2 linked regions of the Homo sapiens genome follow. The protein of the gene in region 2 interacts with the protein of the main gene of each other region in a pairwise test. Each region holds a gene or a part of one and is shown on either strand. Other genes may lie near its edges.

Region 1 (7,028 bases), on a different chromosome or scaffold from region 2:
TCATGAGAAGAGACCAATCTGGCTATTCCCCTGAACCCAGCCATGTTCTGTGCGTGCACCCGCCCCCAACCTCATACTCAAACACACAGCCCTCCTGTCTGCCCTGACATGGGTCATAGCCTGCCTGTCTCCACCTCACACTTGTGCTATTGCTGTGTCCAACCTGTACCAACCCTTCCTCTGTTAAAAATTCAAGACTGCCGGCTGAGTGCAGTGGCTCATGCCTGTAATTCCAGCACTTTGGGAGGCCGAGGTGGACAGGTCACAAGGTCAGGAGTTTGAGACCAGCCTGGCCAACATGGTGAAACTCCATCTCTACTGAAAATACAAAAATTAGCCGGGCATGGTGGCGGGTGCCAGTAATCCCAGCTACCTGGGAGGCTGAGGCAGGAGAATTGCTTGAACCTGGGAGGCGGAGGTTGCTAGTGAGCCAAGATGGTGCCACTGCACTCCAGCCTGGGCAACAAGAGCAAGACTCTGTCTCAAAAAAAAAAAAAAAAATTCAAGACTGCCTTCCCTAATCCAGGCTTTACATCCCTCTCCTCTGATTAAAAAAAATTTTTCGCTGGGCGCAGTGACTCATGCCTGTAATCCCAGCCTTTTGGGAGGCCAAAGCGGGTGGATCACCTGAGGTCAGGAGTTCGAGACCAGCCTGGCCGACATGGTGAAACCCTGTCTCTACTAAAAGGATAAAAATTAGCCAGGCATGGTGGCATGTGCCTATAAGCCCAGCTACTCGAGAGGCTGAGGCAGGAGAATTGCTTGAACCCGGGAGGCAGAGGTTGCAGTGAGCCAAGACTGCGCCACTGCACTCCAGCCTGGGAGACAAGAGCGAGGCTCTGTCTCAAAAAAAATTTTTTTACTGGGTTAAAATATACGTAACACAACATTCACCATTGTAGCCATTTTTAATGTACAGTTCGGTAATGTTAAATGCATTCATTTGTTCGTATTGTTGTGTAACCATCACCACTATCTATTTCCAGGACTTTTCATCACTTGAAACGGAAACTAGGTACTTATGACCTGTAACTCCCCATTCTTCCCTTTCCCCAGCCCCTGTAGCCACTGTTCTACATTCTGACTCTGAATTTTCCTATTCTAGGTATCCCATATAAGTGGAATCATATATTTGTCCTTTTGTATCTTCTCCTCTGATGTGATAGCCCTGACAGGCCCTCCCAGTTTGTTATTAGATTATACATTATCTTGTGTTGATGTTCAACTTTTTCACCCACGTGACTCCCATCTTCACCAGACCAAGAGTTCCTGGAGGGCAGTTTCTCTGCCGCACAGGCGAGCACAGCACTGGGTATGCCGTGGGATTCAGTCAACTCTTACTCGATAGTCAAGGGAACTGCTGACTGACTCACTGAGTGAGTGAACAGTGAATGTGTGGGGTAGTTACAGGAAGCTGGAACCACTGGGGAGGAGACATACCTGAGGGCATCCGTTCTGGCTGACGCGAGGCACGTCAAAGTTCATCATGGACGGGATAGGGAAGGACAGTGGGGTGATGGGCAGCCCCACAGAGGCCAGGTCCCTGTTAGCCTGGCTGACCCTGGGGAGGCAGGGAGACAGGGTCAGTGCTCTGGGCTCTGCACCTGAGCCTGGCAGCCCAGGGCCCCCCGCTTAGACTCTGGGTTGATGCAAGAGAAGGGAGTTGCAGGGATCCCGCCGAGTTCGGGCCTGGACCTCACGACAAGTGGGGACCACTGGGCTGGGCGTGCATCAATCATCTTCCTTCCTCCAACAAGCAAGGGGGCTTCATAAGTCATAAAAACTCAACAGGAGATACAGAGAAGTAGGGGAGTCATCTTGGGCCATCAGGGCCAGTTGGAAGTGACCAAGACAGACCCTGACTCCCAGGAGTCGGTGCTGTGGCAGAGAGCACACGTTCATAGGGGAATTTCCCACTGTGTGGCAAAGTATGAATCTCCTCTTGAGGACTGTGACTCCAACAGACTCAAAAGGAGGTCTAGGGGAGGAGGGGATGAGTTGTGGCTGGGACCAGGGAGACCTCCAGGATGAGGAGGGAGGAGACTCCGCCCGGCAGGGCTAAAGGCTGTGAAGTTCCAAGATGGCCTTTGGGGCCAACCACTGGCTGGAGCCTGTGGCCCTGAGCTAGAGTGGGAGGGGGAGTGGGGAGGTGGTGGGTGTGAGGCAGGGAGGCAGGTTGGAGGGGCTGAGGTTCCCTGAGCAGGGAATGAGGACCCCTCTTGTTGTCCTCCCCACACTCTCTAGCTGTTAGGCCTGGTATCGGCACTCATCCCCACCACCTGCCCTCCAGCTTGCTCTCAGGAGAGGACTGAGCTGCCCCTTTCCAGGGGCCTGGGCTCTCCCTGGGGAAAGAAAGGCATGGTCTGCTGCAGGAAGCTTACTGGGACCTCAGACCCAATGGAGAGGCTTGAAGGGCCTTAGGGGTAGAGGGGTTGCCGGAGGTCCTGGAATCAGCCCATGGCAGCAATGACAGCCTCACCCCCTCCTCTGCCCTCTGCTCTGCCCTCCTCACCCAGGTCCACCTGGGCCCCACTCACTTAAATTCCTTGTAGTTGGGAACGACCCGGGCAATCACCACTATGGGGTTGGGGTTGTTGGCCAGGGGCTCGTTGACTCCCCGGAGAAAGATCTGGAGAGGAGAGGAGAGGAGGCAGGTGAACACCATGTGGCCTTGGGACCTTCCAGAGACAGCCAGCCAGACTGCCTACCCTCTTTTTCCCCATCCGTGAGCTCATGGCTGCCTCCACACTTGACACCTGCTTCTCCCTGTTCCCTGCCTTACTCGGTTCTTGCTTTGCACCAGGCTGCCCTCCCTCAGGAAGCCTTCTCTGCCGAGCTGAGGCAACTGCTCCCGCTTTCTGTCCTGGGATTTACCAATGGATCTCTTACACTAGTTTCTTTGGGGAGAAAGGGTACGATGAGAGTTGGGTCCTGGGAAGGGAGGTTGTGTTCTAACCTCGGCCCCTCCACTGGCTCCTGGGGAGGGGTTGGGCTAGGGGTAGGGCTAGGTGTTCCAGCTCCTTGGTTTCTGTCAGTCAAATGAGGCTCCTCCCAGGGCTGTGAGGGGTCTCTGATTAGATCGTTTGTGAGAGAGCACTTTATAAACTGAAGACAGGAAGCCCAGGTCTGGTTTCTCCGACCATGCTGAACTTCCTGAGATCAGCGGCCACAGCCAGGCTCCCCTTGCCTCCCTCGTGCCCATCACCCTGGTGCCTGCTCCACTGCTCACCCTGGTGCCTGCTCTCCTGCCTTGCTGGTTTCCCCAGGAAGTACTGGTTTGGAACAGGATCATAGCATCCGCATCTCTGGGCTCCTCTTTCTTCATCAGATCCCGGTTGTCACTCCCCTGACCGCCCTTGGTTGTTCCCTCCTCAGTCCTCTGTCACCCCCTAAAGGCTTCCCTGCCTCCCAGTCCTGACTGCCCTCTCCTCTACTCCAGGCTTCTATTGGCGCAGCTTTCAGAGAGCCGAGCGGGGTCCCAGCAGGAGGTTACAAAGCAGGAGTGGACAGCGTCACCTTGCTCCAACCCTCACTGACCCCCTGCTCAGTCTGGGCCTGGGGGACACTGGAAGGCAGACAGGGGAGACAGGGAGTCTGTCCCCATGCGCCTCTGCTGCCAGCCTAAGAGGCCCTGATCTCCCGGACCCTGACCCTCACCCTGTATCCACCAATGGCTCCCACTCTCCCTCAGCCCTCACCCACCTCCCACTCGGCTCTCATTCCTCTTGCTCCTTCGATTCCTCTGCCTCCTCACTAGCCTCTCCACTTCTGTTCCTTTCCCTAATCCATCCTCTTTCCCAGGCAATTTGACACATGATGGCAAAAGTGCTCTTGTTAAAAATGAACTGGGTCACGTTATTCCCTGCCCGACACCCCACAAGCCCCTCTGCCGTGTCTCCCGACAGGCCCCCAGCCCCTGTCTTCTTGCTCCAGACTCTTTTACTCCTGCCACTTACCCCTCTTATTTCTGCCACAGGGTCTTTGCACATGCTGATCCCTCTACTCAGACTCCCTGCAGCTCCCACCAACCCATTGTGGCTGGCGAGGGCCCAGGAGTGAGGCTTGTTCTGGATCATTCTCCCTTTTCTCCCTCCGCACCCTCCTTTCAGGCTCCTCTTTCAATACCCATCTCAGCTGGTTTTCCCACCTCTAACCCCACACAGGTGTGAGCTGATGGGCACGTACAATAGTCCTTAGGGCCTCGCAGCTCTCACTGAGGGCTCTGGAGACTGAATCCCTTCATCACATTCAAAGGATTGAATCTCTGATGGTACATTTCACACTTTGGATGGGTCTGGGGTCTGGGGCTGAGGGATTTCACTGGAGGCTGGCAGGCCCTATTGCTCACAGGCTCCCCAGCAGGTGTAAGACTAAAAAGGGGGTGGTGGCAGCTAATTTGCACCTGTTCTGTGTGGACTCTGATCAGGTGTGAATGAGACAGCTGCCCAAGTACACCTGCTCATGACAGCCTGGGAAGTAGCAGAAGTTCCTGCTCCTGCCATGCGCTCACCATCAGGAGCAGGCAGCTGCTCTGTGGCCATACCTGTCGCACGGATGGAGAGGGCATCTGTGCTGGGGCAGGAGAGTGGGCAGGGTGCTGTGAGCCAGAGAAGGCCCCTACTCTACCGCTCTACCAGGCAAGTCAGAGGGCTGGGTGGGGTGGGGCAGCTCCACAGCAGCCCTAAAGTTCTGCCTGTGTCTTGGGGATGTGGCCTCCTCCCTGTGGGGTGCGGCCTGGGGACAGCAAGGCCAGGCTGTTGCCCCTCTTCCTTGTTCTGTGTGTGTGTGAATTGCTGGCTGTCCTCAGGAAAGGGCGTGATAGAAGGTGGCGGGGAGCAGAGGGCGCCTGTAGGTCTGATATGCTGGCATCAGAGGGGTGGCTGTAGGGGAGTAGAAATGTGGGTTAGGAGTTTTGGCTCCCATACCATACTCCCCTTGGGTCTCAGTGTCCCTGGCTGTGAAAGAAGGCAAAAGAATGCTTCCTTCCCTGCCAGGCCCACGGTGCTGGTGGGAAGTAGGGGGGTGGGAAGGATAGGAACAGATCAGCCATGTTTGGGTAGGTGGAAGCTCAGAGCTTGGGTCCTGTGGCTCCCACCCTGATCATACTCAGGCCATAGCTGAATTTGAATCTGTCACCCATGGGCAGTTTGAAAGTTGGGGGGAATGGGAGAGGGGCCAGGTCCCTGCATCATGTCTGCTTTGAGCATCAAGAGTTCCTCCCAAAGCTGCTAATTGGCCTAGGGGGTGGATGGTGATGGGTCAAGGGGCAGTGGCCAGGCCCAAGGTGGGCTCAGCCCTGTCCTGGCTAATGGAAGAGGCTCTGTAAACAGTTGCTGGATGAATAAATGAATGAATAAACTAAATACCTAATCGCCAGACCAGTCAAACCTCTTTAGACACAGTGCTGAAGGAAAGCTCAAGGAGGCCCTAAACTTTTGCTTGGGGGCCAAGGCACTATCCCAGGAGGGGAAGAATAGAGCAGGAAACTGCTGGGCTGTGGGCTCAGGGGGAGCACGGGGCTTCTCCCCTGCCCCTAGCATAAGATTCGGGGAGACAGGCTCTGGTCCCCACTGCAGCACAGAGACGGTACACCAGGAGCAGCAGTGTGGCTGAGCCCCTCCCCGCCACCTCCAAGACAGAGAGGGAAGGAGAAGAGGCTTGAGCATCTTCATCCTTGTCATCCCTGCCAAAGGGCTTGTCTTCACAACTCCTTTTGCTATTTTGGAAAGGCCTGGTTGCTTTTTCCATTCTTGACATCTCTGCTCCACACCCTCAGGTCAGCCAGAGGGGGCTAAGGGCAAGGCGTGGGGCCTGCTCAAAGCTTGGCCCTTTCCCACCCCCACCACCACCCCAGAGGGCCCCAGCCCTGGTACCTCCAGAGCCATGTGGTTGCAGCCGATGTAGCGGGGTATGAAGCTGCTCTTCCGAACGACTGTTGCGTACAACTGGGTCTTGGCAGTGGCTTCATCGGCTTTCCCAGACTCAGTGGGCTGGAGACAGGGTTGGGGCAGAAGACACAGAGGAAGGAGAGTGTCTAAGGGGCAGATCCTGGCCATAAATCCAGCCCTCTGCAGACAATCACTTGGCATTGCTCCGCTGGGGCTCCGAGCTGATAATTAAAGCTCATGGTCCCTGTGAGCCCTTCCAAGGAGATCAATATAATAAATCTTCCCTTTTCCATTTGAATATTTCATCACCCTCACAAGGACCACTGCCTGTCTGCTTTCCAGTAAAGATGTGATAACAAGGCCTGGGTTGTAAGTGAACAGACAGCCAGGGGGCCTGGGTGATGCCCCCAGAATTACAGCTCAAGTGCTGAGTCTCCCAGGGTGAGTAGCACATCTCTCTTTTACTTCCCTGCATGGCCCATCCTGAAGCCCTGGGATTGGGGTTCCTCATGGGGCCTAAGAGAAGGTAAAGCCCCCTGGTGCCATGATTGAAGAAATGCTTAGAAGAAAGTTCAGTGCTGGCCCGGAGGAGGGATGGGGGAGGGTAACTGACCAAACTGAGCACCTACTGTATGCCAGGAACCTTGCCTATCATTGCTTGAGATCCTCAAAACGACTGTGCCAGCTTTGCCAGTGAGGATGGAGGCCTGGGGACCAAGTGGCTTCCATGGGTATCCAGCTAGGAGGCAACAAACTTGGTCTAGGACCCCCGACAGTCTGGCTTCACATTGTTCTTTACTCTCAACCACTTTCAGGGTCTGGAATGCACAGTGGGGAGGGGAATGTGATGCTTCTGTTCATCTCTGGCTCACTACCTGGCACATAGTAGGTGCTTCATAAGTCCTTGAGCAATGAGAGAGTGAATTCTACCCCTTACCCTTCAGCACTAGGAGGGAGGACAGGCAGGGGTCTGGCCTGGGAGGCCCAACCTTGGAGTGAGGAGCCTCAGGCCCCTCAGTCCATGGCTTGGACCCAGTTGCTCACTCCAGGGGTGCATTCCAGGGAATGCTTTATTCCATGTACCCCCCAACTCTCCTGGGCCTTCTGGCCAAGGCAGCATGTGGAGGCAGCTCAGAAGGA
Region 2 (7,028 bases):
TTAGTATGTGCCACCTACTGTTCTAAGCCTTTATGTATTTCATGGACTCCTCGAATCCTTCAACAACTCTGTGCAGCAGGTGCTTTTTAAGACCAGCCTTGAGAAACTATATTTAAACGCCCAGTCAATGAGAATGAGCTGATAAAGGAGCCTGAGAAAGAGTAGACTTGGAGTCAAAGAAAGAAGAATATGAATCATTGAAGCCAAGGGAGGTTTGAGTTTTTGAGAAAGGAAGGAGAGATCAACTATGCTACTGAGAAACTAATGAAGATGAGGAACGCTAAATGTCTTTTTTAAATGGAGATGATGAAGTGAAGGAAGAGTGGTATTTCACAGCGGGGTGGTGGAGGCAGGAGCCAGATTAGAGTGGCTCTAGAAGGCAGTAGAAGGTGAAGAAAAGGAGACAGGTGGATTCCTTTGTCTGGAAAAAGGAGAGGCAAAAAGAGGCAGTAGCTAAAGGGGAGAGTGGAGTGAAGAAAGATTTCTTAAATATAGGTGCTAATTGAGCAATCAGTGTGATAGAAAGGATTCTATAGAAGGGGGAAGGAGAAGGAGGAGAAAAGATGATAATCTGTAATGTTGCTTGCTTGCTTTCTTTTTTTTTTTTTTTTTTTTTTTTTTTTTTTTTTTAACAGACAGGTCTCTCTGTCACCCAGGCTGGAGTGCATTGGTGGAATCATGGCTCACTGCAACCTCAAATTCCAAGGCTCAAGTAATCCTCCCACCTCAGCCTCCTAAGTAGCTGGGATTACAGGCCCGCACCACCGACACCATGCCCAGCTAATTTTTTTATTTTTATAAACACAAGGTCCTGCTATGTTGCTCAGAAACTGTCTTAAACTCCTGGCCTCAAGCAGTCCTTCCACCTTGGCCTCCCAAAGCACTAGGATTATAGTTGTGAGCCACTGCTTCTGGCCCTATAGTGTCAGCATTCTGAAAAAGTGGAGGCAGATGGACTTCATACCACAGGGGGATGGATGGCTTTAGGTAGGAGGCAGGACATCCCCTCCTGCAATTAGAAGGGCAGGCAAGATGGGGTTTCTCTTTGGTGTAAATACAGCCCTCCATCATCTGAGGAGAATGGAGATTTGAATAGTTGTTTGGGGCAATGTTGAGTGGGTGCCCAGTTGAAATTTGCAATTACGTATTTAAATAAATAACAAGGGGTACGAGTTCCCGTTGTTATTTATTTTCTCGCAGCAATGCTCAACTACCTAGGGTCAGGCAGAGAGAGAGAGTGGGTAGTTAGGATCATCAGAATTTGGGGTAAGGGGGTGTGAACAAAACACAGAAACAAGGGCTGTCAGGGTATTGCTTAAGCTGATTATCCTTTCAGTGGCATGATGGAAGAAACAGTTCCGAGAAACTTTGTGGGTCCCACTGCCAGTGGCCATGTTGGCCACTTTGAAAGTTACAGTCACAAGAGCCAGCCTGCTTGCATTCATATTCTGGCTCCTCCACTTAGGGACTGTGAAACCTTGATCCAGTGACTTAACCTCTCTCTGCTCTCAGTTTCCTCCTCTGTACAAGAGGGATGACGATAGTAGTACCTACCTTCTAGGGTTGGTGTGAGGATTAAATGAGCATATATATTTAAAGCCCCTAGAACAGTGGCTGTTCAGTGTCTAGAACCCTTAGTACATGATTATTTCTCACCATACTATATTATTATTGTTATGAGGAACACTCCAAATTATAAACTTAGAGTTTTATTTAATAAAAATGGTGAACTCAAGACCATATGTTTTTCAAACTCATCACAATAGATCCTCTGTTGCTTTTAAATACCTTAAGTAATTTGATCATTCAGAGCATCTGAGAGACTACAGGGCATGCCTCACTATTCTAATAATTATATTTTACAGATGAGGAAATGGAGACTCAGAGGGCACATGGCTCGTTAGAGGCATGAATTGAAGCCTGGATCTCCAGTATGCTTCCCACCTAGTGAAGTTGCCTCTCCAGGAGCTGTCTGATCTGTAATTAATTCTTGTTTTCTGCTCAGACATTTTCTTTTGCTTGAAATGCTGCTGCTGCTGTCTCACCCACCTAATACAGGCCAAGACTAAAAGCAAACTAGTATTCTTCTGTAGCAATTGATATCATTTTGAAACTCCCATTTTCCAAATCCACTTGAAAGATGCCTTGTGCTTTTATGTACTTTCTGTTAGCAAAAACTGGCAAGTCGGCTGCTGATGGTGGTAAACTATCTTAAGAAACAGAATCCCTTAAATAGAAGGACAGCCAGTTCCTTGTAAACCCAAATAAAAGCCAGTGCTTTATAATGACTGTTTCATTAGTGATGTCTTCAAGATTTGGCATGTAAGCCACTCTTTTGTATGTGATGGGTTATTTTCATTCAATAGTTTGGTCTGGCATTAATGAACTTCCACTTCCATCTCAGCTGTCACTGAGCTTCTGAACCTGTAGGGCCATACCATGCCCTGTTTCTTTGGAGGACCTCCAATTGATACTTCGCTGTGACTTAAGACATAACAAAAAATCAGGGGTCTAGACTTTAAATAGGTGGGTGGAAAAGAATAGGTGGGATGAATTTTTAAATGGGATAGGTCTTTTAAAAAGATGAAAGGGGAAATGCTGTATAGAAGACCAGATCGTTTGTTAGTACTTTGTTATCTTTGTATTCAAGGTGGAGCTAGTTAACACTAAATTTAATTCAGTGCAATGAGGGTTAACAGAAGAAGTTCATGATGCTCAATAGCTGATGTTTTACAGAAACATCAAGATCAATTTTACAGGAATGCCAAGATCAATTCTTATGCCATGATTTTCCTGGAAAATAATTTATTCTGTATATATGTAGTATATATATATATGTAGTATTCTGTATATATGTAGTATATCATTTGGTAGCTAGGCTGCTGTCTGATAGGGTAAACTGTCTTAAGTACAGAACCTCTATGTAATCCCTATATGTAATATTGTAATTAATATAGACAAGGGACTGCATCTAACTTTCTGTTCATTATTGGCACAAATAGTAAATAATATTTGGAAATGTGTCTATATTTGTCAGGTGTGTGAATGTACATAATTTTTGTATTATTCTGCTCTATATCGTGTATAAATTTTTCATTCTAAATTCACCTTTCATGCTTCATTCTGGCAGGGCTGAATGTCTTATGCATAGCCAGCTAACTAAATTCTTAAAAGGTGAGACCAATAAACAGAAATCTCAAGGCAGCTACCCTACTGCTGTTCCTCTTGCCTAAAAAAAACTTGTCCAGAGTACAGACTTGTCCAGAGAACCCTAATGAAATACCTGGTTATTCTCTGAAATGGTTTGAACCTATTTATTATGTGCAGAATTGTTTCAAGCTTTGTAGTTTGTCTTTCCTAACCGTATTTCTAGTAAATAAGCTTTTGAGGTTATTTGGAATATATTTTAAGAGCTATAAAAGTATTTATACCTCAAATCAGTCTATATTTCCACCCATGATAATTTTTCTAAGGAAAAGAAAATAAATATAAAGCCATATTCATAAATACCTCATTGCCGTGTGTTTTGTAAAGGTGAACAACCAGGAGCGATCATTTAGCCAACAAAAGGGTTGAATAAATTATAGTGTATTAATTTAAAATGATAATTACAGGAAATGTGTAGCAGCATGTTATGATGGTATCAAGTGAAAAGAGCAATTCAAAATTGTGTCTCCATCATTATGGCAACTGTGTACAAATTGCATATACTGAGGATCAGAGGCTGGAGAGCAGTGGGAGGCTGTAGGTGACTTTCTGTGTGTTTCCGTTGTGACGGTGGACCCGGGTGAAAGTTGGACAGCAGAGCTGGGCCATCCGTCACGGAGAGAGGGGTTTGTGTTTTACACTAGCGAGCTTGAATTTCATCCAGAGAGAGACATGATCAGATTTATCCTTTGCAAAGATTGGCTGCTGTATGTGGAGGGAACTGCAGCAGGATCAGCGTGATTGTCAGAAGGCTGACCATTCGGCGGGCCCAACCCGGTGGTGCCCTTAGTCTCTAGAAACGTGGAGGGACTCATAGAGGGGCATCAGTTATGCCAGCACCTGTCCCAAGACACTAAAATACTGTTGCACTTTAAGATTCTTGAACTATGTTTCAAGTGTAAATTTCATTCTACATACATATCCATCTGTATGCAGATCTTTAAAATGTATGCATATGTGAATCCCATCTGCTTCAAGAGAATTTGGAAAATCCTAGCTGAAAATACACATTTTAAAGAATAAAAGAAATAGAAATATCGCCATTCTTATTGTGTGTTGTATTTGAATAGTCATGACATTTCTTTAAAGTCTGTCCATCTTAAGATGATTTTATTGTAATCAAGTTGTTTTCCTGTTGCATCTACCACAGTGGATATTTGCTGAGCAGTCACTAAGTTTATATATAATTACATTTCCAAGTATTGTTCTAAAGTTTATGTCCTGAATGGTTCCAGAAAGAATTTAATGCACCAGTACTGGGTTACAAATCCTGGGCTTCAGAATGTTGCTAATCCTTGACCCTCCCCTCTCTGTTGTCTCCCTTAGCTAGTATGTCACCATGTGCTAGCCAGTCAATCCCTTCTGCCTTCGGAGTCCTTCCTCTCCACCCACCGTGCACACTCAACTTCAGTCACTAATCATTGCTCACCTCCTGGCCTCTGTACAGATAGTATCACTTTAATTTCCTAGTCAATAAAATATTGAATTATATATATATATATGAATGCAGTTTGTAATATATAAAGGGATATGCAAATGTTGGTAGTTGTTATTCTTTCCAGTTTTAAAATTCATTGATTCCATGACTACTAAAGTATTTCATTTGTGAAAGTGAAAACCACATGTTGTTTTCTTCCATTTTGTTCCTCGACCAATAAATCAATGCAGCATTTTGAGTGATGTAGGTTATTTTAATCAGTAAGAGGCATGCTGCTTATGATTTTTTTAAAAAGTTTTGCATGTACTTTTTTAAATGTGGCAAGAAGTTCAATGGAGTGAAAATTGGATGATTCAGGAAAGGCAGCAGGAGACTAAGGAGATAAAAGGAATGTATATCTATAAAATTAAACATAATTAAGCAGTTTATTTGCATAACTTCGTCCCCTAACTTCCATGGCAGAATAAATCCCTACGTGCTAAAGTGATTAATTTCCTACTGAGAATGACTTTGGGACACTAGGGGAAGAAAATAAGTAGCTTCCATATCAAATTTGTTGCCAGAGAGGAAAGTCTTAACAGCTACAGAAGTAGGGCAGAAACTTACTAGAGATTAAGCAGATCCTTGGCCAGAGCCCCACTCTTACGGAGGCTGAATGCCAGCAGCTGATTTCTCAGCATAGAAACTGAAAGGGCGATTTCACCCCAGCCTTAGCCTGCCTTTTCCCTTTCCCGATCACAGCTCACATCCTGTTACTCTAATATCCAGCAGGCTTTCTTCTCAGATGGAACTGAAATCAGTGGAAATATCATTGTGCCTTTGTTTCCTGGTGGTCAGCCCCACCTTGAATGTGGAAACCTTCGCAGCTGAGGTTCCCTCTCTCCTCGCGCTGGGATCCTCTGCTTATGTTAGCAAAGAACATTTCCCCATGGTGTTGTGCGAATATTTGAAGGGTGCTCATTTGCAGTAACCTTTGGAGTGAATCTGTGAGTGGTGAATCTGTTGAAAACTTTGGGGCTTCTCCCCAGAGAAATAACCATTCAATATTTTTGCTAAACCTTTAGATGGCTTCTTCCAAACCTCATCAGAGGAATTTGCAGAACTCACATGAGAGCCCCCAGAATTCTAAAGTTCCTTTAAAGTTTTCTTTCAAATTCAGACATAACTTTATTTTGCATAAAATGAGCCTTAGCACTGCAGTTTTTAATTGGTGACATTTCTTTACCAGCTAAATGCTACTTACCACTGACTGTTTAAAATTCTGGCTTGAATAAATCATTTGGATAAAGAATTCTACTAACGCTGAGGTCTTGTGTTTCAGGTCCGACTACAGCCACCTGTCCTCCACGAGCAGTAAGTATCTTTTAAACATCCTTCAGCATTGTCTAACGGTCCCCGGAGAGGTCAGTACCCTAGAGGCCATGTGTGTACATGGTTTTATAGTAGGTAAGAATCACCAAAGCATCTTTGCCAAAGAATGTGGTACAGGATGCTGTAACTCTGGAAGTGGAGGCTTTTCCTGGAGAATCTGATCATACAGAAATTCAGCCTGAAGGATGTAACCCAGGCTTTATCAGCTGCTTGTGGATGCTTCTAGGAGCATCATCTCTGAAGAATCTGAGGTAGCGCTTTCATTGAACAAACATCTATCAGATACCTGCTACCCTCAGGCAAACAGAAAGCTCAGAGCACAATTCCTGGATCCCTGCAGTTGCTCCAGCTCATCTCTTGCAAAATCTCTTCCCTTGCATGTCTGCATCTGCAGGCAAATATCCTTCCCTCTCCAATGGAGGGAACATCTATCTCTGGCAAAATCCTGCGAAGTGTGTTAACAGTTGGAACAGTTATAGCTAAAGTGGAAAAGTGATAGCTAAATTCCCTAATTATAACCTACATTGGTTATACATGCCAATACATATGTACCAATACGTATGCACATTGATATACATATATATCAGTATGTATAACCGATGTAGGTTGTAATTAGGGAATTTAGCTATTACTTTTCCACTTAAATGTGGCTAAAAGAATACAGACATTTTTATCAATCCATCATCCTGTATTTGTAATTCCTGGCTTATAAGTGGTTATTATATGCAGCAGAAAATGATCAGGAATATGTTTACAAAGACACTCTGGTTATTAAAAAGGTGCTTATATTTAATATTAAAGTACAGGTAAATTTACTCATGAGAAATTATGCCTCATAACTAGAAAGAATTGAGAGTGATTAAGATTACTACATAAATGACCAAAGCCATTCAGATTGATTGAATACTTATTTTAAATTAACAAAAGTAATTGTCTTAATATAAAGGCCCTGATTGTTTAAATCAGTAAATATTAAATTGTTTTGCCCTATCTCACTAGCCTGTTAAACTCT

Evidence for each region. Proteins that work in one complex are often made in the same cells at the same time.
Region 1: the proteins of FAM124A (region 2) and CCDC33 interact in a two-hybrid assay, tested with the Homo sapiens proteins (2 studies listed by BioGRID and IntAct).

The regions. Positions count from the first base shown.
Region 1 is NC_000015.10:74,267,304-74,274,331, reverse strand, and holds part of CCDC33 (coiled-coil domain-containing protein 33), read right to left. Parts: intron 5,991-7,028; coding exon 5,874-5,990; intron 2,630-5,873; coding exon 2,538-2,629; intron 1,562-2,537; coding exon 1,441-1,561; intron 1-1,440.
Region 2 is NC_000013.11:51,225,382-51,232,409, forward strand, and holds part of FAM124A (protein FAM124A), read left to right. Parts: intron 1-5,966; coding exon 5,967-5,998; intron 5,999-7,028.